Linked DNA regions of Homo sapiens. The protein of the gene in region 2 interacts with the protein of the main gene of each other region in a pairwise test. Each region holds a gene or a part of one and is shown on either strand. Other genes may lie near its edges. The genes, in order: EZR, MIER1 and TMEM171.

Region 1 (7,832 bases), on a different chromosome or scaffold from region 2:
GGTAACAGCGCAACAGCTGGCGAGTTCTCAGCACTCCTCAGACTTCAGGACAGTCTCCTGCTTATGCTGCTACCAAGTTGTCAATATTTGTTCAAAAGGGAAAGAATTTGGGCCTATTAAATGACTGAATATCTACATAAATGCTTTTTTCATGAAGAGAGGGGTGTGCCTTCAGGAATGGGGAGAAGAGAGGCAGAAAGTGAGCCTGCCCAACACCCCAGCATGCTCTGTGGGGAAAGAACCATCTGAGAGAGTTGCCACGTTCATCGCTCAATGGTGGGGGAGGGGGAGCAGAGCGCAAAAACAGCACTAAATAGGGCACACAGCTCACGTTTTTACTTGGAAGAAATGGACACTTACGTGGGCTGGGGCAGTTACAAGCTGACATCAGCAAGTTCCTGCCCATGGCTGTTTTCCTGCAGGTTGAAAAACCTGTTTGGACAGCCCTGGCCTGGCCACGTTACAAAATCTGGTCATTGAAGAGATTTCCAAGGCAGAGGCAGTTTCCCACATACGTTCCCACGAGGACTTTGTGCACTGCTCCTTGGCATGGCTGTCTTAATAGCCACGGCTTCAGCTCTAGGGTCTCCCGGAAAGATGGTGTCCTGGTTCCAAGTACCCACTTTCCCCACTTCTTTAAAATTTTTTTTGAGACACGGTCTCGCTCTGTCACCCAGGCTAGAGTGCAGTGGCGCAATCTTGGCTTACTACAACCTCTGCCTCCCAGGCTCAAGTGATCCTCCCACCTCAGCCACCTGACTGAGACCACAGGCGTGCACCACCATAGCCAGCTAATTTTTTAAATTTTGGTAGAGACGGGGTTTCGCCATGTTCCCCAGGCTGGGCAAGACTCCTGAGCTCAAGGGATTCGCCTGCCTCGGCCTCCCAGAGTGCTGGGATTCCAGGTGTGAGCCGCTGTGCCTGGCTTTTCCGTGCTTCTTTACCAATGCTGCATCCAGCACACTTGGAGTAGGAGCGAACCGAGAGTCCTCAATATCTCATTTCCAGGTTCTCTGAGGAGCTCCTGTGACAGCGCCTGCCTCCCTCCCTGTGCAGTATCACCACGTGGGCCCCGGAGGTGAGAGGAGGTTGGGCACAGCTGGCACAGGTCCCTGACTTGCCCAAGTGAAATAGATCTGTGCCCTGGGGTCTGGCAGGAATCCGCGTGGTTGCAAATGGAGATGGACTCATGCAGGTCATTTGTGGAAAGCAGCACCACTCCCTTTGAGAACTCCAGAGAGGGTTTTGGGGGAACCTGAGATGTGGGGATGCTGAGAACAAAAATATCTGAGAACAGATGAGATGGGTGAGCCTCAAGTGGGAAATGGGGAGAGCTGTCATTTCAAGGAACAGCATGAGGCTGGGAAGGAAACCGGTACATCCAGGAACTCTGGGCCACTCTGCTCTTTACGTGGAAAGCAGGAACCCAGGCCAAAAGGCAGGGCTTGGCAAAAAGACCCCAGGAGCATTCTTGCCCTGGCACCTTCTCTGCCAGGCCCCTGAACCTGGTGGCCATCAGATGATTTGTTTCGGGGAGCCCTGCAGAGCAATCAGGCTGACTGTGGACAATCAGGGCAGAGACGGTAGTCAGGAGGCAGTCAGGAGCCTCTCCCTTCTCTTTCCAGAGGTAGTTTCCTTCTGCCTCTTAAATTCAGGTAGCTTCTGATCAGATCAATCCAGAATCTAGGATTATGCTGATGTCGCAGACTCACCATGGGAAACTTGCCCTCATGAACTAGGATGACTTTCCCTGTTTATCCTCAGCAGAAAGAAGGCAAATGCCCTGTATGTGAAAGCGGAACTGCCTGTCCCTGTGGAGAGGCCTGGCTCTGCTGCTCTACCCAGCTTGCTTACAGGCCCTCACTCAACAAACAACGTAACTAATGCGAGGCAATTAAGATATCTCCTGCAGACTCCCAGCATTTAGCTCAAGTGTCTACACGTACAGGCTATTGTTTACAGCTTTTCAAGTCTCTCATCACACCATCAATATTCTTGGTTGGATTAGCACAAACCTCGAGCCAGGAGTCGAGCACTGGCTGGGCTGCCTGCGAAGTAGCTATGGATGGATGTGCTGGTACCTGCAGGCAGCTGGGGTGGAATCTCAGAGGCAGCGGGGAGGAGAGGCAGCCTCTGCTCTATTCTGCCTTCCTCTACCAGGACTGAGCCCACTATCGGCCCCGCCCACCATGAGAGAGGATAACCCACACCTCTGGACCACCCTTTGAGAGGGCCACAGCAGTCCAAAAGCCCTTTAAAAAGTTTCCTACTTTGGGATAGTAAGTTGCTAAATAAATACTTCAAAAATAACCCACAAATTTGCCATTTTGCCATTGTTTCCAGGCCCACCACCCTACCTACTGAAGATAACTGTGAACTTCAACTCACTTATCATCTTTCTCATAAATATTCAGTCCAAGGGCATCAACTCCAAGCCAAAGGTCTGTTCCTTTCTTGTTTTTTATCTCGAAATAGTTGATTCCATACATTTCCAGGTCCTGAGCAATCTTCAGGTATTCCAACATAGCATTATCTCTAATTGGGGAGAGTGAAACAGGCAGAGTCACTGGTAGCACTCAATATCTAGAACAGTAAAACCTTTCCAGTATTTTTAAATTAAGGCGCCTTGTGTAGGATGGGCTCAATGCTGTGTGCTGCGTGCAGGCAGGCAGGGGCCGGGCAGCCGACCGGTGAGGAGGGGACCCATACAGCCCAGAAGCTATGCCTGGGGTGGGGTCCGTGCTGCCCTGGAGCCTCACCACCAAACCCCACACTTTGAAGAAGAACTGATTCACACTGGTTTCTCTAACAGGTTTTTAAGTTTTATCACTCAGCACAATCCTCCTTTTTCTCTTGCCCACACATGTCTTCCCACAACCCTCCTCATAGGCTTTGAGTTGTTTTCCTTCCATAAAGGATGTTTGGGCCAGACAGGAAACCCTGAAGCACAAAATCTGAGGCTCAAACCTCAAACAAACTTCAGAGGCTGAAATAATGCAGACTCGCAAGACTAGGCCAGAGACAAGGCTCTAGGACGAGAACACCCAGAATCAGGTGGCTCGGCCATGTCTTACATTAACAGCCCCACGTCCAGGTTCTCTGACATCAGCATTTCTCACTTGGGATCCTTTTTCATTTATATACACTTTGTAAGACAAGTACCTTCATATAATGAGCAAACCAGCATCTCTTTGACAGAATAATGCTGATTGCAGGTGAACAATGCCCCTCTGACTAAGATGAAGTTTAGACACAACACTTTCTACAAAGGGAGGGTGTAAGCTTTTAGAACCTGAAGGCTTGAGCTAAACTGCTTCTTTCCCCAGGCAAGACACCTGGCTTTGTTTAAAAAAAACCTCTTCCCTAAGAAAACCCCACTTTTAACTCGGTTCCCTCAAGGTCTTCACAAGGCCTGACACAGAGCCCTTTAAAGCACTAACTAGAGTCACAGGAAAAGACATGCTGGAGCGCACGGAGATGGCAAGATCCCAACAGCAGGGCACAGCACTCACTTGAGCATCCCACGGTGTTCCGCATGCCACACCTGGATCCGGTCCTCCCACTGGTCCCTGGTAAGTTTGTGCTGGTCCATCACTCTGGAATGCAAAAGGAAACAGCACTGTCATCCTTAAGGAATGTGACAGGCAAGGAAGGAGGCCCACTTACCACCCACATTCAAACCCTTACTTTCCATTCAAATCAATCAATCCCAAAGAGCTTTGGTTTCTATTTCCTGATGTGCAGCATTTCTATTTATGACAGTTAATCTGGAAGACTTAGCATTTTGAACAAGAACTCAGTTCTGCTGGAAAAACTAAGAGGTATTTTAAGTGGCCTCTTCTTCCAAATGGGGTAATTTTTGTGACCATTACTAAATAAAAACAGATTTCACAGGGGCAACCTATCATACCCCAGGAGGAGCTGAGCAGTCAGGTCGAGAAGTTTGCTATGCCATGTCCCACAGGACACGGCCACGCTTTAGTTTCCATGAGGAATGGCAGCTCGCCTTCCCTGGCTATGTTTCAGGTCGCTGGTCAGTGACTTAATGACTAGCATGAAGGAGCACTTGACACTGGCGAAGTCCTTGTGTTTTTAAACTGTGCTTCTAAGGCAATCACTTCTCCCTGCCGAGGACGGCATGACTGCTCCTGCCCAGGCCGGGTCATCCTGTGCTCACCTTTGAGGGATCAGCCGCTCAGAGCTGAGGTACCCAGACTTGTGCACTTCTTTGTTGTAGTCCCCAAACTTGGCCTGCACAGCGTAGGACCCCAAGAGCACGGCAGTCTCAGGGGGGCAGTAGATCTCATCGCTAAGGATTCCTTCCTTCACTTGGAGGAAGAAAAGTTTCTGGGTGATGTCCTGGATGAGCTCCTCAGCCACATCTTCAGGGTAGAACTTGGCCCGGAACTTGAACTGGAGGGGATTCTCCTTCCTGACCTCCTGGGCAGACACCTGCACGAAACAAGCCACACTCTCCACACAAATCCGGAAGACGAAGGCCCACTGTCCCCAACACAGGCTTCTAACCAAGACTCAATGGGGCCCTCAAGCCAGTTTTCAGGAGATATTTATTCTTAAAGTCATCTTTTTAGCACTCCAGACAAAAAAAGGTTAGTCAAAAGTGCTACCACAGGCCAGACATGGTGGCTCATGCCTATAATCCCAGTGCTTTGGGAGGCCAAGGCAGGAGGATCACTTGAGCCCAGGAGTTTAAGACCAGCCTGGGCAACGTAGAAGAGATCCCATCTCTACAACATTTTTTAAAAAAAAGTTAGCTGGGGATGGTGATGCATGCTTATAGTCCCAGTTACTCAAGAAGCTGAGCAGGAGGAACCCTGGAGCTCAGGAGTTCGAGACTGCAGTGAGCTATGATGGCGCCACTGCACTCCAGCCTGGGTGACAGAGCAAGACCCTGTCTCTTCTTAAAAAACAACAACAAACAAACAAAAACAAAAAAACAGGCCAGGCATGGTGGCTCACGACTGTAATCCCAGCACTTTGGGAGGCTGAGGTGGGCGGACCACGAGGTCAGGAGTTCGAGACTAGCCTGACCAACATGGTGAAACCCCATCTCTACTAAAAATACAAAAAAATTAGCCGGGCATGATGGCATGCAGCTGTAGTCCCAGCTACTTGGGAGGCTGAGGCAGGAGAATCACTTGAACCCAGGAGGTGGAGGTTGCAGTGAGCCAAGATCGTGCCACTGCACCCCAGCCTGGGCGACAGAGCAAGACTCCATCTCAAAACAACAACAACAAAAAACAAACAAGTACTATCACACTCTTGTGCTCAGCTGGAAATCAAAGCTACTGCCTCACTAAGCCCCAGTCCTCATGGGATGATGCTATCAATCCTGGAGAACTCAAATTTGGAAATGACCCCAGTGACCTGGAATGGGGCCACATGCCAATCGGGCCCTGGACCCCGAAACTTACTGTTAAGAATTCCTCCTGCTCCTCCACTCTTCCCCACCTCCCATCATCTTTTTAACTTGTTGCTGTGACTTGGGAGGACAGTGGGGGTTTCAAAAAAAAAAAAAAGGATAATTTTCAGAGTTTGAAGAAAATGTTTATCTTACTACTTTTCTTTTTGGTTGGTTAATGGAATTATCCACTCTTTAAAGTTGGAAGATAATCTGTCACAGGTTCAAACAAAGCAATAACAGGTTCTTACAAGATGGTGGATGATTCACAGTTTATAAGATTAACAATCTCATTGAAAAAACTAAGGTCAACTAAAAGCTATGCAATTAACCATCATATGCTCCAATGAGTGAGCACTATGGAGAAATGCCAGATCTGATTTCCAATCGATATCTCCATTTACTGGAAACCTGCAACCTTTTTGTCTGTAAAAACTTTTACACAAACAAAAAGGAACAGAAAACAAAAGACAGGGTGAGTTGCTCCAGTTTCCTTATCGATGAAGCAGACCAACACCCAATCCACAGCCTGTAAATAGTTAATCCTGACTTGCCTTCTTATCCAGCTTCAGCCAGGTAGGAAATCCTTTATTATCCACATAGTGGAGGCCAAAGTACCACACTTCCCGGAGGCCGATAGTCTTTACCACCTGCGTGAGAGAGAGAGAGGCTCAACACTCATGAGAAACTCACTCAAAAGGGCAACAGCTTTTGGCTGTCGTTCATCACATGGTCTAGCAGAGTCCCCAGGAAACCAGGACATCTGCTCAGTCCAACCACTGGGCAACATCTTTTTTTGCACTCAAATAACTTGTTACTAACTGAGGCTATTATCTCAAAGCCATGAACGACTTATTTTTAATATAAATTTGAGCAGATTCAGGGTTCTACCTTCAAATCTTAGAAAATCTCACTCCTACTCCTTTGTACTCCAGGATGCTCTCCTGCATGAAACTCAGCAGGGCGGGTTATGGCCAGCACACACAGAACCATGGGAGCCCACAGCCCCCCAGGGAACAGTGCGGTGGGTGCATCGCTGCCGGTCAGGTGTGCTCATGCAGAAGACTAAAGCATCCAGTGCCACACCTGAGCCTCCTCTGGCTGCCTGCCTCTGCCTCTCAGCCAGCTGGCCCAGGGGTCTGACTTACTAGGAACAGGGACAAAGAAATCCTAGGAAAGGCAGGAAAACAGGCAAGGCAGACTTCTGGGACGGAAGGGTGTCAATGCACAGGGGTGCCCAGAGGAACCTGCATCTTATAGACCTCCAGAAATGGGACATTCTGATACAGCAAAGGTAGAATCCCGACCCTAGGTCACAGCAAAGATTTCACATTTTCAAGCCTCTGTTGTGCATTACAGGAGTCCTGAGCTGCTTAGTCTCACGACTGTCTTGTAAACAGAAAAGCAGTGATAGTCGAACTTGCTGTGGACATTTGTTGAACATCATCTAAACCGAGTCCCAGACAAGTTCGACTATTTACATATACATAGATGTCTAATTTAAAATCCCATGATATATAATGTTAAACTTTAAAAAATGCTACCATCCTTCAAATACATGGCTTCTATCATATTTAATGCCAAAGAGGGTTGAATACATTAGAAATGACAACTCAGGTATACAGAGCATTTGCTTAAAGTAAATCCTAAAATTCCAAATTAACTCCTGATCTGGGCCTGTTTCTTCATCTGAAGGGTGCAGGGAGGCCAGAGGCTCCCTAAAGCTCTAGAAGTCTGTTTATTAAATGCCCAGGACTGACCTGTTCTTCCCCCTCTTCCCACTCACCCAAAAGGGATGGGGGAAGGCTGCAAGCTGAGCGTGGTGGCTCACACTTGTAATCCCAGCACTTTGGGAGGCCAAGACGGGTGGATCACTTGAGTTCAGGAGTTCGAGACTAGCCTGGCAAACATGGCGAAACCCTGTCTCTATTAAAAATACAAAAATTAGCAGGGCGTGGTAGCATGTGCCTGTAATCCCAACTATTCGGGGAGCTGATGCAGGAGAATTGCTTGAACCTGTGAGACAGAGGTTGCAGTGAGCTGAGATTGCACCATTGCACTCCAGCCGGGGCAACAGAGTGAGATTCAGTCTCAAAGAAAAAAAAAAAAAACAACGCTGTATTTGAAGCAGCTGTTATTGGGGAAAAAAGTATTTAATAAGTAAGTAGTAATATCACTAATAAATACTTGATTTAAAAAAATCTTCCAATTTTAAAAAGTGAATTATTTCTCTAAATCTTCATTTCTTCCTTTCATAGATGTTCAGGTACGATCACTTAGAAATGAGAAGCTGCAGCAACTGAGACAACTAAGGCTCACTCATCCACGCAGTGAGAGGGGTTCTACTCTGGAGGTGGAGGCAGCTGCGGGTAGGAAGCCGCGTCTCTAATACAGGGTGAGAGACACACAG
Region 2 (7,832 bases):
TATGAGACATTTTCATTTTCTTCCTCTAAATTTTGATTTTTAAGAAAACCTAGTACTTGTTACTATTTTTTAAGCTGTAATTTTGAAAAATTCAGTGTTTTAGGGGGTACATATTTATCTTATCTGAGATGGAAAACAACACTAGAGAGACAGAAAGACTGTACACAGAGTATGAATGGGCTAAAACAAATTAAAAACAAACTCTAGCAACTTTTATAGCAAGTTGACCCTCACCCACATATTTGTATGATTTAGTTGATAAAATTGCTAATAGTTGTAACGAATATTCAATGCCTCAGATTTGCTGAAATAATTCTCTTTTATATTTTTCTAGAACATGGTGGGAAATGTCCCATACAACAGAAGACTATAATTTGAGAGAGAGTAAAGAAATAACTAACTACAACATTACCATTATTTTCACCAAAAAAACCCTAACAACAACATAGTAAAAACATGAAGTAATTACTAGATTTTTTTATTCCAGGCAATCAAAAGCTTATTTGCAATGAGTATTACCGTCTGAACAAATTTTTCCCCTCAAAACAATTCTACCACCATTTCTTTTAAGTATTGCCGTCATCTACTTAGTTATGTAGACTCTAAGTCAGAGATTCTCACAGCAATGGAGATGGGGATAGAAGCCTGGAAAGAGGGGTCCTACTTTAGGGTGAAAGATGGTTACCGTGCCAAGGGCTGGCTCACCATCCCTCTCCTCCAATAAAATTAAGTTACTTAACTTTGTTATTACTCTCAGGAATTCTGGGGTATAAAAAGGTTAAGAATGTACTGAAATTAAAATTAGCAATTTACTACAGTATTAATAATTCAGAAGTAAAATGATATCATAGAAAATAAGGACTGGGAACAGTGGCACACGCCTATAATCCCAGCACAAGACAGGAGGATCACTTAAGGCCAGAAGCTCGAGACCAGTCTGATCAACATATCGAGACCCTGTCTCCACAAAAAAAAAAAAAAGCCGGGCATGATGGCACATGCCTATAGTCCCAGCTACTTGAGAGGCTCTGAGGGAAGGATTGATCACCTGAGCCCAGGAGTTTGAGGTTGTAGTGAGCTATGATTTGCGCCACTGCACTCCAGCCTGGGCAACAGAGAGAGACCCTGTCTCAAAAAAAAAAAAAAAAGAAAGAAAGAAAAAGAAAATAAGCACTAGGAATCTAGGAATACAGAAGGCTGGGTTCCAGTCTAAACTGTGCCATAGATGAATTGCACGACCTAGGACAAACTACGTAAACTCTCTGCTCACTTTCATTTTCTCTATGATCAAAAGATTTAGATTTCTTCAAGACCTAACTTTACTTTTATTATAAATTGCTCTAGAAACCTAACACTACTAAGGAGTATGCAGCTAAATGCATGGGATATGTTTAAATTTATTTTTTTAAATCTAGGACTGTTAAAAAAATCTCAATTTGCAAAAACAATTTTTTGGGGTGCTACTTCATGAATTTCATACCTACATAATAAGTTATTGTTCTAAGCCACAGAATAAGACAAACAGAACAAGCCCCAAGCAATGACTGGTACTTGAACAATTTAATCACTGCAATGAATTTTGAATGAACATCAAGCCAGGCAGGCATTTCTAGATAGCTGATTACTTTTCATAAAGACATGCTTAAGCTTCAATGGCAGTGTTTTATTTCTGAATTATTTAGAAAACTGGTTAGTCTCACTTACCAGAATTATCTTAAAGTAATTCACTTGTTTCTCCCACCAAACCTTTCCCACCTATTAAAGTACCCTAACTCTTAACTGCCAATGAATTAAGATTTTTAGGACTCTCACGCACTGGTGATCTTGACTACTTTTAAAATCTTAATAGCTCTGAAGTATAAACATGAAAAAAAATTCATTATTAGTGTCGAGAATTATTTGAAGCTTAAATTCACTGCAGTGAAACACATTTTGCTTAGAGTAGAAATTAATGTTTTCATAAGTAACATTTAACATAATCCTTCGTTAAAAAAATCCAAATACACTCAAAAAATACTAAGCAAGGAGTCCATTTTAAAGAGAAATGGATAGGTGTGAAAGTGAATAAACAGATTATATACCCTCTTTGAAAGTACTAAAATACTTAAATAGAAAGAAGCAAATCCATTAATTTTCTCTTTATATCACAGAAATGTGGCCTAGGTGAAAAGACAGGTCTTGAATTGTCCATGGATTTTTTTCCTTGAGAAGAAAGTCCCTTACGTGTTTACAAACGCTAAAATACAAGACAAATTGTTCGTTCCCAAAGGTCCCTAGTACATTCCTTATAAAACCCAAAGGATTAACTATTTCTTCCTCTCATTTTTTCTCTCATTTTCCTCTTATTTTTGCAGTTAGTAAAACTGCAACTATCCTGTAATTTCCTTCAAGTGTGACTAGGAGAGCGTCCTTTTAGAAGGTTGGTAAATAATTTTAAGGGATAATAAGCAATGAGAAATATTGCCAAAAAGTATTAAGCAAGGGAGCATATGCTATTTATTCTAAGTACATTAAATACGGCTTTAATGTTATCACAACTGAAGAACCAATATATACTTCCTATTATGGACTAAGATAATCAGATCAAATATAAAAAATTAGTATATCCTATTCTCATCTAAAGCACTTTCTATTCAAGAATTAAATATTTTTCTGGAAAAACATGGTCAGGGTCATGCTCTTGTAGGAAGCATCAATTTTTTTTTTTAAAAGCCCAGAAGCATAATACCTACATTTTTCTCTGGAGACATACTTCTTCAATAACCTGTTTTCCCCCTCAGATTTAACAAATAGATATATACTGTTGCTTTGCACTTACTGTTACTTCACAAGCTATCCTTAAATCCTCAGATTTATTTGATCAAAAGCACAATAATTCAGCATCTGGATTATTTAATCACATGCTTTTATATTGGCTTCATAAAGAATGAATCTACTGAGAGCTCAAAGTAAAAGCCAACCAAGCATTTCTCCTTTGTCTAATTGTTTAAAACCACTGGTCTCAAAAATCGTCATAATTATTCAAGTATTGAGGCCAGGAAAACTATAAATCAATTGTACTTTTCACTTCTTCACCTGTCTTAGATTTTTTTGTAGGACACAGATCACGAAAGTTCCTCTAACTCTTCCCCAATTCACTATACATGAAACTATCTACAAGTAACTGAAGAATATAGAAGATAAATTGTTTAAAGATACCAGGTCATTAAATAAACACTAAAAACCAAATAAAAACAAAATTCCAGTTCTTTCCTTCTTGCAGTTGAACAATCCATGCGTTCCCACAAAACATTCCATTCTCCAACTGATAAAATATTTAAGAAAACTAAAACATACATTAGAAAATATTAGGAAATGATTAGTGAATCAAAATATTTTTTTCCTTTATCTTACAATAACGCAACCATCTTTAATTTTTAAAACAAAAAAGTTAACATAATTTCTTTTACATATTAGATTTTTTAGTTCCCTCGGCAATAAAATTTATTTTTTAAAAACACAGAAATTTTAAATTTAAGTTTTTTAACTTAAATTTCTCTGTATAAGCTATTTTCCTTCAGTAATATCTTGCCTTAGTATATGACTACACACCTCAAAGCTCAAACCATCCTGAGCAACACCATGAAAGAAGAAACCACATTACCTATGTAGCACATTGCTGCTTACCCGATATTCACTGAAAGGGGTCCACTGAAGACACTAACTGACAAAATGTATAAATCCAGCTACACACAACTCCTTAAACATGAAGGAAACAAACACTTAAGAATAAGAACCTCACCAGGACTAAAATCCAGGTACCGATTCTCAGTCTACTGGAACAAACGCAGTCACATTTTGGGGAAACAGAAAGTACTACGTTCTCCAATTCATGTGCCTGGAAATACAATTCTTTAACCACCAAGAGCAAAAGAAATGAAAATAAATCTAAGATCTAAATTTAGTTGTAAATTAGAGATATTGAATGTTTTAAAAAGAATACTCGCAGCAAACAGTCCTGTCTGCTACAGCAAAATCTCACCCTCCTTCCTAAATCTGTTTTGGGGTGCCTGTGAAACCATGAAAATGGCAATTCAAACAAGAGAAATGCCTTATCAATCAAAATTTACAGTGGCTTATTTCAAAGGAGTCATAAAAAAAATCCAAATACATCATCTCGAACTCTCAGGAATAAAGAATACTGAAATTCTTCCACGGGTAAGGAAAAACGGAAACAAAACAAATCCCACAAAACTTCAGATATTTTAAACATTTTTTAAACTTCCAGTTATTTAAAGTTCCAGTAGCGTATACTTAGTTCCGATTAATAAATCAACAGCAGTTGTATGCCCGCCAACTGCGGCCCAAATATGTAAAATCAAAAAAAGGGGCTTTAGGAACTTGTTTACTATAAAACGAGCAAAAAGAAACAAGAAAAAGCTTCTCCAATGAAAGAAAAATTAGAAGAGAAAGAAGACAAGAATAGGTAGCCTTGATTTGGAAAGGGGGTGGGGGGAAGCCTGGAAAGTGAAGGTGGTGGGGGGAGGTGGAAAAGCAGCTCAGAGGTTGTACCTTGGGGAGCGGGAGATGGAACTGTCTGGATAAATGGGCAGACTCCCCCCAACCTGGAGGGCTGGATTGCGGCTGGCCAGATTAATTTATCCACTCTCATTTTACCACGATCATGAAAATTACAGAGTTAATCAAAGGCCGTCAGCCTTACGTTTTCCCCACTAACACAGACTGGATGTCAGTCGCAAATGGATGGGGGTGACGCGGAAGGGCGCAACAGCATCTCGGTTAGGAAGGGAAAAAACTTCGCAAGAGGAAGCAGCAGCTTCTCTCCTGGCCCCTAGCACCGGCCGGCGAAGTTGCGCCACAGGCACCCCTTCCCCGGCGGGCGCCCCCTCCCCCTCGCACCGCACTACTACGCTGCACTACCCTTCAAACTGCCCCCGAAGTCCAAGTACGCCTCCGCTTCCTCCTACCCCCGGACCCATCCCAACTAAGTTCCAGGCGAAGCTCCCGCCCAGAGAATGGCCTGTTCCGGACAACAGGTGGGCAGCGGCGCCAGCAGGGCCGGGCCTCTCCTGGCCAGGCCCACTCCACTCCTCCCCGGCCCAGGGCCGGGGGCGCCCGGCTCCGGGACAGGGAGGGGGAGCTCGCTCCCTTACCTCCGCCATATTTGCCGTACTGCCGGGTCACATCTCCGCGGCGGCCGCAGCTGGGTCACGGCCAGAACCCGGATGTGAGACTCAGCAACGGGACTCCGGCCGCTGCCGTCTCTGCCGCTCCCGCCGCCACTGCCTCGGCGGGAACGCGCAGGAGCCGCCCGAGCGCGCCCACCACACCCCACTCCGCCCCCTCGCGGCGCCCCGGCTGGGCTGGACTGGAGGGAAAAGACCAGCGAGCACGCGCCGGAGCAGGGGCGCGCGCGCGGCCCCGCGGCCAGCCCTCCCCGGGAAGAGCGGAGGGGGCGGAGTCAAGGTGGGTGTGGGAGGAGGTGGGCAACCGCGCGGGGCGCTTCGCTGGCTCCAGCTGATCCGCCACTCCAGGCGGAGGGGGTTGTCTACGGATCAGAGAGGTCAAGGAACAGTGCCAAAGGAGTCACATCCAGCATTGACACAGCAGAGGAAAAATACGTAATATTTTACATGTAGGTCGTTTTTGAAATGCATTTGCTGAAAAACGGATGTTGCTGTGATGCAACGGCGGCAAGAACTGTGCTTTGAAAGCGGTTATGCCTTGACAAATATTTCTCCATCAGTAGATTCCCGACAGGAAATGTAAAATTCTATATCCCCAAATCTCTAGAGAGGTCAGAGCAAAAATTAATGGAAGGGGTTATGATAGGCAGTCCGCCATCCTCATGTCATTTGCGTTTTCTCACACACTTCTGTCATGCCGGTAGCAACACAGTTATGTACTGAATTTTGCACAACTAGACAAAATTTAAAATACTGAAAATTGACTGTTTTATGGATATCATCTATTTAGTAGCATGGAGGGAGAACCTACTTATTTGCAATGCCTGAAATGCCTGTAACTTGAAAGTTTATTTTAATGTATTGGCCTACAGCTGCCAATTGGCCGTGATGCCAATGCTGATGATGGCCAGAACCAATGATTTCAAAGTAACTAACATGTTTCACTTCCATTATACTAAGGCACATACTGAATAACACAAAGGTGACATTAAAACAGTCACTAACATATTTTACTAAACCAGTTTGAAAGTCTTTATTTCAAAAGACTGGGATTTTTTTCCTAATCTTCAAGGGTTCCTCTTAATGCAGTTTCAAAAGTGGCTACCAAAATCAACCATTTAAATACGAGAATTATTCATTCCTTCCAAATAATGTGAACCAATACTACATTGCATAAATGTGTACATATACAATTTTTCTTAAAGTTAATACTTAACTTATAATGCAATATAGGGGAGGCTATTAAATTATTTATATTCCCTTAAAATTCTAGACTCTATCAAGCATTTTCCTATTTCCAAAGATTCAATGTTAATTTGAAACTGTTATGTCCAATAATAATCTGTGCATGAATAAACTGCATTTACAGATATATGAAGTAGCTGCTAAGTGAAAGGACATTACCTGGTAATTTGACAGGAAAAGAGTCCACAGACAGTCTGTAAACCAATTAAACATAAACATCTGATGCACATTTTCTACTGAAAGAAAAGCAAGGGAAAGAAGAGAAAGGAAAACTTTAAGGTTCCCAAATCTACAAACAATTTTTACCATTAACTGTACTGTACAGTATTTTCATTTTATTTTTTAGAAAACTTATATAAAAGTGTTTTTCAGGATTCCTTGGGGGAATAAATATTTTAGCAGAGGTATATAGTTTCTAATAGTTACCCTGTTGAATTATGTCAATCCTCTGGACTTGAAATAAAAATGACTTTTTAAAAGTGTCAGTTCATATCCAAATAGTTTTCAATCAATACACTTAATGAAAAGAGCTGAAGGCAAAGAACAATGGATATACATGGACCTGAGGTGGGTACAGACACAATTAGGGGCCTAGAGGTACAAACTCAGGCTTTATACCATGGAGATGAAGGAGGGTTTTCCATTAACATATGAAAGCTAATTTATGAAATTTGGCTACCAAAGGAAAATTAAAAGTGTTACAATACAAGGTACAGAAATAACTTGCTTAAGTACACTGAATCTTTGATTCTTCAGTTAAACTACCAACAGAAATCCCAACTATGATAAAGAGCAGGGGATCATAGTCTATTAACCTACTGAATGAATCCTAAACTTGTCAGGAAAATGGAAGTCTGAAACATTTCTGAATGGGTATCTATCTTACTGTTAAATAACTCTTTAAGTTTATTAATATTGTGTATCAATATTACTAGTTTTAAATGGTATTATTATTATTGAGGGAAAAAAACTCTCTACATTTTTCCCCTTCCCCTTTTTATAAATGTGGATTCAGTGGGTTTTTTAGGTTCAGATATTATAAAAAAGAAACAGCTCTAATACTGCAATTCATAGGTAACACATTACCACTGAATTCAGTATCCTTCCACTATTATTTTATTTTAGTGATACACCTAACTGTAAAATTTTCAGGAGCCACCTTACGGAATGAAAAGTCTTTCTCAAAACGCTTACTTACCCTCTTCAGTATTAAATATATAAAAATTAACTATTCACTAGTTATAGAATTTTAGTGTTGGATGGGACCTTAGAGATCTTTTAGTCAATTCTCTACCCTGTCAAGATAGTAATCTCTCATCATGCTTCTACTACCAGGCTTTCTGCCTATGTTTAAACCCCTCCAGTGACTCACTATATCTCATAAAAAGGCTGCTCTTTTCA
Region 3 (7,683 bases), on a different chromosome or scaffold from region 2:
GGCCCAGGTTGGTTCAGAGGAGTCATTGGGAGTCCTGGAAATATGTGTTGAAACATGGACCCAAGACTGAGCGCTCAAGAATAAATTCCTATAAACCAAGCCCAGCTGGGGCTCAGAAAACATCAGAAATTGGAAGCAGGGAAATGTGTGCTTCTGGGTGCTAAGATTAATTTGGGGCAGAATTAGAAAGAGACCAAAAGAGAAAAGAGACCTAGAAGTTGGCAGACTTGATTAGCTGATTGTCTTTCTGCCATCTTATGAATTCTGAAAAATGGTGCCACTGAATTCTGCAGGTCAATCCACTTGCCCTGAGTTTCTTCTCAGGGTTGGCAGTGCCCTGGGAAGAAATACGTGGCCTGTCTTGTTGAAGTGAAAGATATGTGTTCCTTAGGGCACTGTTTTGGGAACAGAGCAGCAGAAGCCCCCTGCTCTGGGTGAAACTCATGCCTCCCAGCCGCACTAGCTGTGCTCTGCACCCCAGAAACATCTGAAAACTGCACTTGGTTGGCACCAGCCCCTCCCTTGCTTTGTGTGTTTAGAACCCTCCAAAGGACTAATTGTTACTCTTCCAGAGAGGGAGCCCAGCCTCCTCAATTTTGTAATGTCACTCACAGACCACAGGAAAGTATTCCTTCCGAATTCCTGAACTCCAAGCCTCCATATTCAATTGCCTACTCAGCTTCTCTACTCGGATGTCTAATGGACAAAATTAACATGTCCCCAAATGGACTCTGAAGCTCCTCCTCTCAAACTTGTCCCACTCTTAGGATTCCCCATCTTGCTCATGCCAGAACCATTCTTCCACTTGCTCAGATCCAAAACCTTGGAATCAAAACCCACATGTGGTTCATGGAAAATCCCATTGACTCTATCTTCAAGATATATCCAAAGTCTCATCCCTTTCATCACCTTCATACACAAGCTACAGACATAACTCCTGGGTTGTTACCACAGCCTCCTAACTGGCCTCTTCCCATCCATCCTGGCTCCTCCTTGGGCTATTCTTACTGCAACAGCCACCAATTTCTTTTTTAAAAGAAATCAGATCACATCACTGTCAAAGCTCATCACATCAGCTCAAAAACCATTCAAAGGCTTCCCACCTACTTAAAGGCCCTGCACAACCTGGTGCCCTTGGCCCTGCACATGCCTTTCCTCTCTGACCTCCTCTCCTACTCTCCCCCTTGCTCACCAACTGCAGCCACCCTGGCCTCTTGCTCTCCTTTGAATATGCTAATATGTGTGTTCCTACCTCAGGGCCTTTGCACCTGTGGTTACTTCTGCCTGAAGCACTCTTCCCTACTTCCCACAAAAAATCACGAACTATGCTTACAAATTCTTACTCTTCCCTACAAGAGGTGGCACCTAATCCCATTCCCCTTGACTTTGTGACTCAATTCTAAGGACCAGAATAAAGAGAAGTGATGGTATGGAAGTGCAGAGCCTCGTCAGAAAAGGCACCACAGCTTCCCCTTTGTTTGCTCTCCCTTGGATCACTCACGTGAGGGGAGGCTGGGTGGAGAAATCCACATAGTGAGGAACTGAGGCCTCCTGCCAATAGCCCTGTGAATGTGCCACCTTGGCAGCAGATCCTCCAGCCCCAGTCCAGCCTTCAGATGACCACAGCCCTGGCCAACTGCTAGACTGCAGCCTCTGAGAGGCTCAGCCAGAAGTACCCAGCTAAGCCACTTGCAGTTTCTGACCCTGATCAGAAACCCTGAGAATACATTTTTGCTGTTTCAAACTTCAAAGTTTTGGGGTAAGTTGTTATGCAATAATAGATCATTGATACACTTGCTTCCTCATTCCCTTCAAGTTTTTGCTGCAATCTCACCTTCTCAGAGATGCCTTCCTTAACTCCCCTATTTAAAATGGGGTGCTCCCCAGTCCCCATCTGTGATTTATTGTTCTCCCTGGCACTCAATCACTTTCTAATTCTCTGTATAACTTACATATTTTATTGCCTTTCTCCTCAATAAAATACAAGTTCCGTGTTTTATTGGTAGTTGGTAAATCTGTGCTGGCTAAATACATGAACACATGCCTCTGCTTTATGCTTCTACAGTCACTGAATTCGAGGTTTTTAATCTTGTTCTGATGCTGTTTTTCTAAGGATTCGGTCTGGCTTTTATCTTTTTCACTACCACACAGGCCAGGGAAGACCACTAGATAGTGACCAGGCCACGCAGCTTCTCTCCTAAGGCTAGGTGGGCTACAAAGATAAGTACCTCAAAGGCTGGTGGGTATGTCTTTCATACATAATCGATGATCAATTTCCAAGGAGTTTAATTTAGTCAAACAGGCTCTCATAGACACAAACAGTGAGAACAGCAGATATACCAAGTGGAGGCTAATCTGATTGTCCTTGGTGCCAGGATATTCAAGTCTGTCATGGGTGGTGAGCCTGCAGTCATGTGGCACCAGAGGGGCAGCTGTATCAACAGGCCCCTTGCAGGCCTGCACATGACATGGCCAGAGATTCAGTTTCAAATAAGGGGGAAGGGAAGAATGAGTAGGGAAAGGACAAGGAAACCCTTTTGCACAATGAAGAGTTGTTCACAGGCCTGTGTCAGAGGGGACAAATCCTATAATGAGGGCCTGAGTTCTTAGAAAGCCAGTGCCTGCTGTTGTACAATCCACTCTTGGGTATCTGCCCATTCGCTGGACATGCTTTGGTGCCCTTCCAGAAGGTGGTATACCTTGACACTTGGACCAGGAAGGATATCTCCACCCCAAACATAGATTACTGCAATGTCCTTGGGACACAGTGCCTGTATTGTTATAATAATCTAAACGTGCTTGGCATCACAAGGCCATGAGGGCGTTTTCTGGGTTCACAGCATGGTGTGTTCTCTGAGTGACAGGTGTGCTGCGGGAGAAACACTGAATGGTCAGCGCATCTGCATCTGGCTCAGGCCTTCTCTGCATGTCAACCAGCTGCAGAGGTTACTTTACCTCTGTCAGCCTGGACCTCAGTTTCCTCAACTGACAAATGACTGTTTTTCTCAGTCTCCTGTCCCCTGCTGCCTCCAACCTTTTCTGAACTGCTGGAGAGATGTAGCAAAGAACCACAAAGCAAGGGGTCGTGAGTGTTGGCATTGTTCATTTCGACAGTAATCAGGGCTGTTAGTTATGGCGGGGATTTACAGAGGTCGGGCACCCTGGCTATGAAAAAGTCCACCTTTGGCCACCCAGGCAAGTGCCCCACCAAATTCCAATGGCAAGAACTTGTCCGTTCTGCCTCCCTGGTGAACCCTAAAGCCCAGGTAACCCCCTCCCCTCTTTACCTCTCTGACTGGTTCTTTAAGTCTCTTCTCACCTCTGATGATTAGCTAAGCCTGCTTCATACTTTACCTTCAGTGAGCATGACCAGGAATCTCTTGTTGTATCAGGTAGGTAAAGTGCTTGCTTGCACATTGAAAAGTTTCATCCATTGGCCTTAACTCTAGATAGGGTTTCAGGCAAGGCAGACAGGAAGCTGAGAAGAGAAGGCAGGGCTGGGAAGTCCCCGTGGCTCAGGGCACCTCTGCGCTTGGGCAGAGAACCCTTGACTCACCTTCCACCGTGCCCTGACCCCTGGTGTGGAAACTAGCACAGTTGGATCCGTATCACGTGTCACGGGGCTGGTTACAAATAGCACAGGGATTGGCAAACTCATCCCGAAACTCCCGGTTCAAGGGCAGGGAAAGTTACCAGTTTAATTCCGGCAGATCATTAGTGGTGGAGAACCAGGAAGGGGGTTCTATCGCAAAGGAGGGCTGTGCGCAGACACGTGGGTGCGGGAGGGGCAGAGCTGGTCCGGCGCGGGGCTTGCCGCGTCTCGGCCTCAGTCTCGGAGCCAGGACCTCAGGCCTGAATGGCTGGGTGTGGAGGGCCCTTGTCTCACATTCTGTAGAGCGCACGTCGTCCCGTGACCTGGTGGCTCCATATTCGATGGGGAGCTCGCAGCGAGTCGCTTCCCTCTGTAACCCCACTCCAGGTCTCCAGAGCAGTAGGAGGGCCACAGGGCTGCTGGGTGTAGTCGCCCCGGACCTCGCGGTGGCCAAGGCCAAGGCGGCCGGGGCACGGTACCCTGTTCGGCCTGGGCCGCAACCACGAAGGAGGCGGTGGAGGCGGGGGCCGGCGCTTCCTCCGCGCCCCCCACGCCGCCGCTCTCTCGCGCCCCTATAGAACTGGGCCTCAGGCCTCGAGGGGGAGCGGGCCTCGGCGGGCGGGGCGCACAGTTCCGCCAGCCGGCGGGGGCATCTCAACTCGCCGGCCCCGCCAGGTGTGCGGGCCAGGCAGCCGTGGAAGGTGCCCATTTCTCCCAGATTCCTCGCGCGCACGGCCACGAGCGCGGAGGCTGCCAAACCCGCCAGCCCTGGGTTCCGAAGCCGCCCCTGGCTCTCCATTCCCTCGCGGGCGCGCCCCGGGCCCCCAGTGGCGGCCAGCTCCCACCGGTCGCTCCTGCACTGCCCTGCCCTGCCCTCCCCGGGCCGCCGCGCCCGCGCAGCACCGCCTCCTTCTCTAAATACTGCCGGGTCCGCCCTCCGCACCAGGACGCGCGGTGGGTAGGGTGCAGGGCGGCCGGCGCAGCCGAGGCCGCGTGCGGAGGCGGACGCCGCGCCCAGCCAGTGCCCACAGCAGCGCGGTCAGCCAGGCGCCGGACCCAGCTTCAGGTAAGCTGCCCCGGCCCGCGCGCCTGCGCCGGCGGCGGCGGGTCGGGCGCTGAGCTGTGCGGCCAGGCTGGGCGCGGGGAGCCGCGGCAGCGCGGAGGCGCTGGGTATCCGAGCCCAACCTGCGTCCCTGCGAGCCCCTCCGGCTGTTGCTTGCGCTCGGGCTCCCTAAAAGCCGCAAACCGATTTCGCACAGAAGGCATTTGCCTCTCGTTTCGTTCCCCAAACGCACCATAGCTTTGGACGTGGAGAGGTGCTGTGAATTTTGGAAATGTCTTTTGGAAAACCAATAGGAGTGTTGGAGAGGGGAGTTTGGCTTTGGGGAGTTTAAGTGTAGGGTGGTGTTTGGAAAAGGTTTCATTGCGAGTGAATGTGGGTGTCTTTGTATCCGTTTGTGAGTGCATCTGTGGGAGAAGGAGAGAGAGAGAGTATTTCCACACTATTATGGATCAGAGGTGAACACTCAGCCAGGTGCTCCGTCCACTAGTCCACGGACAAGAAACTACAGATTCAGTTTTGGGCTTCTATTTACTGGTGTTTGGGAATTTGCCTTAAGACAGTTGAAGCCTTGTGACTCACTGCAAAGTTGACTATACTGGGAATAAATGAATTCCTGATAGGACTTTGCAGCCGAGAATCACCCTTCTCTTTCTTGTCTCCGAAACCGCAAAAGAGATTGCATGATTCAGGAAAAAAATTAAAACAACAACAATAACAAAAAACCAATATATATAGGTTTCAGGACTCTCCATCGTTTCATTCCACTGAGAGTTTTGGAATGTACTCCCTGTAGGATAAATGAGGACTACTGTATACTCAATATGAAATTCTTATTCACTGCAGGATGTTACTGACTTAATAAAAAATGGGAAGATTAAAAAATTAGTGCAATGCTTTGTCTCAGCTTAACTGCATCTGTATATCAAGTTTTTCCAAGTTTGAAATGAAAGCTTTTTTCCCTCCTATATTTCCTTTTTTTCTCCAACTTCCTTCTGATTCTATCATACTTTTTCCTGGAAAAGTTTTTCCCAGTGTAAGATTGCCTGTTTGCTTTCTTTACCTAAACTGACCTTCCCTCAGTGTGATTTTGGTTTGTCAAGATCATCTTGGGCTTAGGGCCTCAGTCTTGAGTTCCTTCATGGGACCATGGATGTGAGCGGCACAAAATATTTTAAAAGTTTTCTTTCCTTGGGCAGGTGAAAATAGTCTTCACGATTTTGGATTGTCTTTGCAATTGCAGGACCTGACTTACGGGGTCCTGGTAAAATATCCCATTCATTGGAGTAAAATAAGATAACGAGATAATTAGGTCAGCTCTGTGTAAGCTAGACAACTCTTTAACAACCACTTGGCATATTTAATATATTATACCCCTGAAGTACAGGGCTTGGGTGATTTTCTGGAAGGTGCTTTCTCACTTGATTCCACTTATACTATTCTTTCAAAGCCAAGTTCCCCCCTTCCACCCATTTTGTGCTTTATAACTAGCAGTTTTATTGGCTGCTTGTTTTTTAACTGAGTCTCAACCTCTTTGTGGAAGTAGGTGACACCATGGAGGAGGGTGAGTGAGAGGCCACACCAGCCTTTGGGTACCTGTCCACTCTGAAAATTGAGCTCCTGTTGACCTGCTGTGCAACACTTTCCAGGGTCATCCCAGATCCAAGCAACTGGGTCACCAGTCTGTGCTTGTTGAGAACCCAAGAACCATTTTGTTTTGTTTTGTTTTGTTTTTGGCAGGGTCTCACTCTGTTGCCCAGGCTGGAGAGTAGTGGCGTGATCTTGGCTCACTGCAACCTCCAGCTCCTGGGCTCAAGCAATCCTCCCACCTCAGCCTACCAAGTAGCTGGGACCACAGGCACCATGCCTGGCTAAAGTTTGTATTTTTAGCAGAGATGGGGTTTTGCTATGTCACCCAGGCTGGTCTCGAACTCCTGAGCTCAAGCAATCTGCCTGCCTCTGCCTCCCAAAGTGCTGGGATTACAGGCGCAAGCCACCACGCCTGGCCTCAAGAACCACATTTTGATAGAATCAACTTAAAAGTCCACCAAACCCACTGTGTTCCTGAACAGACTTCTTATTCTATTGAAATTGCTGAAATTGGGTCTTTTGTAGATGTAGCCTTAGAATAAAACATGAAATGGAAAGCTGCTGTAGTCTAAAACAGGAAATGGAAAGTTAGTTACTGAACTGACTTGAAAATGCTGAGAGCAGCTATGATGAAAAGTGGGGCATTTGCAATCAGAAAGAATCCCTGTGGTTCTTCCCTCATTCACCAGTGCTTTTTTCCCCAGGGAAATGAGTTTGTAAGACTCAGAAAAGGAAATGCCACACCCAGCTACTTTTGTTCTTTCAGTTTTTAAAAAAGATACCCTTAGATGTGTAGTAATTTAATTTCCTGTTTTGAATATCTTGTAAAATTACATATTTAGGAGTTTCTGAATGCTAGTTTATCTGACTCATAAACCAACTCATTGTTCTACAGCTTATCAGTTGTATAAAGTTCTACCCCCAAGGCCTCATTGTGGTGTGATTTCAGAAATGATCAGCAAAAAACCAGGGTGGTTCTGGAACACCTGTGCCCACGTTAATTTGGTGTTTGGTTGTGTTTGCAGAGCTGCTGAAATCTTGGAGGGAAGAAAACACATCCCACCCTGCCTCCGGGAAGGGGCCTCTCCTGGACATGTCTCCTGCAGCTGCTGCTGAGCCAGATGGGGACCAGCAGGACAGACACGTCAGCAAACTCATCTTCTGCTTCTTTGTCTTCGGCGCCGTCTTGTTGTGTGTGGGAGTCCTGCTCTCCATCTTTGGGTTCCAGGCATGCCAATATAAGCCCCTCCCAGACTGCCCCATGGTGCTCAAGGTGGCGGGGCCTGCATGTGCCGTGGTTGGGCTTGGGGCTGTGATCCTGGCCCGCTCCCGGGCGCAACTTCAGCTCCGTGCAGGGCTGCAGAGAGGTCAGCAGATGGACCCCGACCGAGCCTTCATCTGTGGAGAGAGCCGCCAGTTTGCCCAGTGCCTTATCTTTGGG

What was found.
Region 1: the proteins of MIER1 (region 2) and EZR interact in binary tests that used the Homo sapiens proteins (3 or more experiments, as listed by UniProt).
Region 3: the proteins of MIER1 (region 2) and TMEM171 interact in binary tests that used the Homo sapiens proteins (3 or more experiments, as listed by UniProt).

The regions. Positions count from the first base shown.
Region 1 is NC_000006.12:158,781,132-158,788,963, forward strand, and holds part of EZR (ezrin), read right to left. Parts: intron 6,073-7,832; coding exon 5,977-6,072; intron 4,453-5,976; coding exon 4,178-4,452; intron 3,597-4,177; coding exon 3,513-3,596; intron 2,536-3,512; coding exon 2,389-2,535; intron 1-2,388. UniProt on the Homo sapiens protein: Probably involved in connections of major cytoskeletal structures to the plasma membrane. In epithelial cells, required for the formation of microvilli and membrane ruffles on the apical pole. Along with PLEKHG6, required for normal macropinocytosis.
Region 2 is NC_000001.11:66,927,722-66,935,553, reverse strand, and holds part of MIER1 (mesoderm induction early response protein 1), read right to left. Parts: intron 6,668-7,832; exon of another isoform or gene 6,665-6,667; coding exon of another isoform or gene 6,591-6,664; intron 5,299-6,590; exon of another isoform or gene 5,163-5,298; coding exon of another isoform or gene 5,154-5,162; intron 1-5,153. UniProt on the Homo sapiens protein: Transcriptional repressor regulating the expression of a number of genes including SP1 target genes. Probably functions through recruitment of HDAC1 a histone deacetylase involved in chromatin silencing.
Region 3 is NC_000005.10:73,116,039-73,123,721, forward strand, and holds the start of TMEM171 (transmembrane protein 171), read left to right. Parts: upstream 1-4,536; 5' UTR 4,537-4,658; intron 4,659-7,267; 5' UTR 7,268-7,335; coding exon 7,336-7,683. Other genes in the region: uncharacterized protein LOC124901001, read right to left, coding at 3,690-4,391.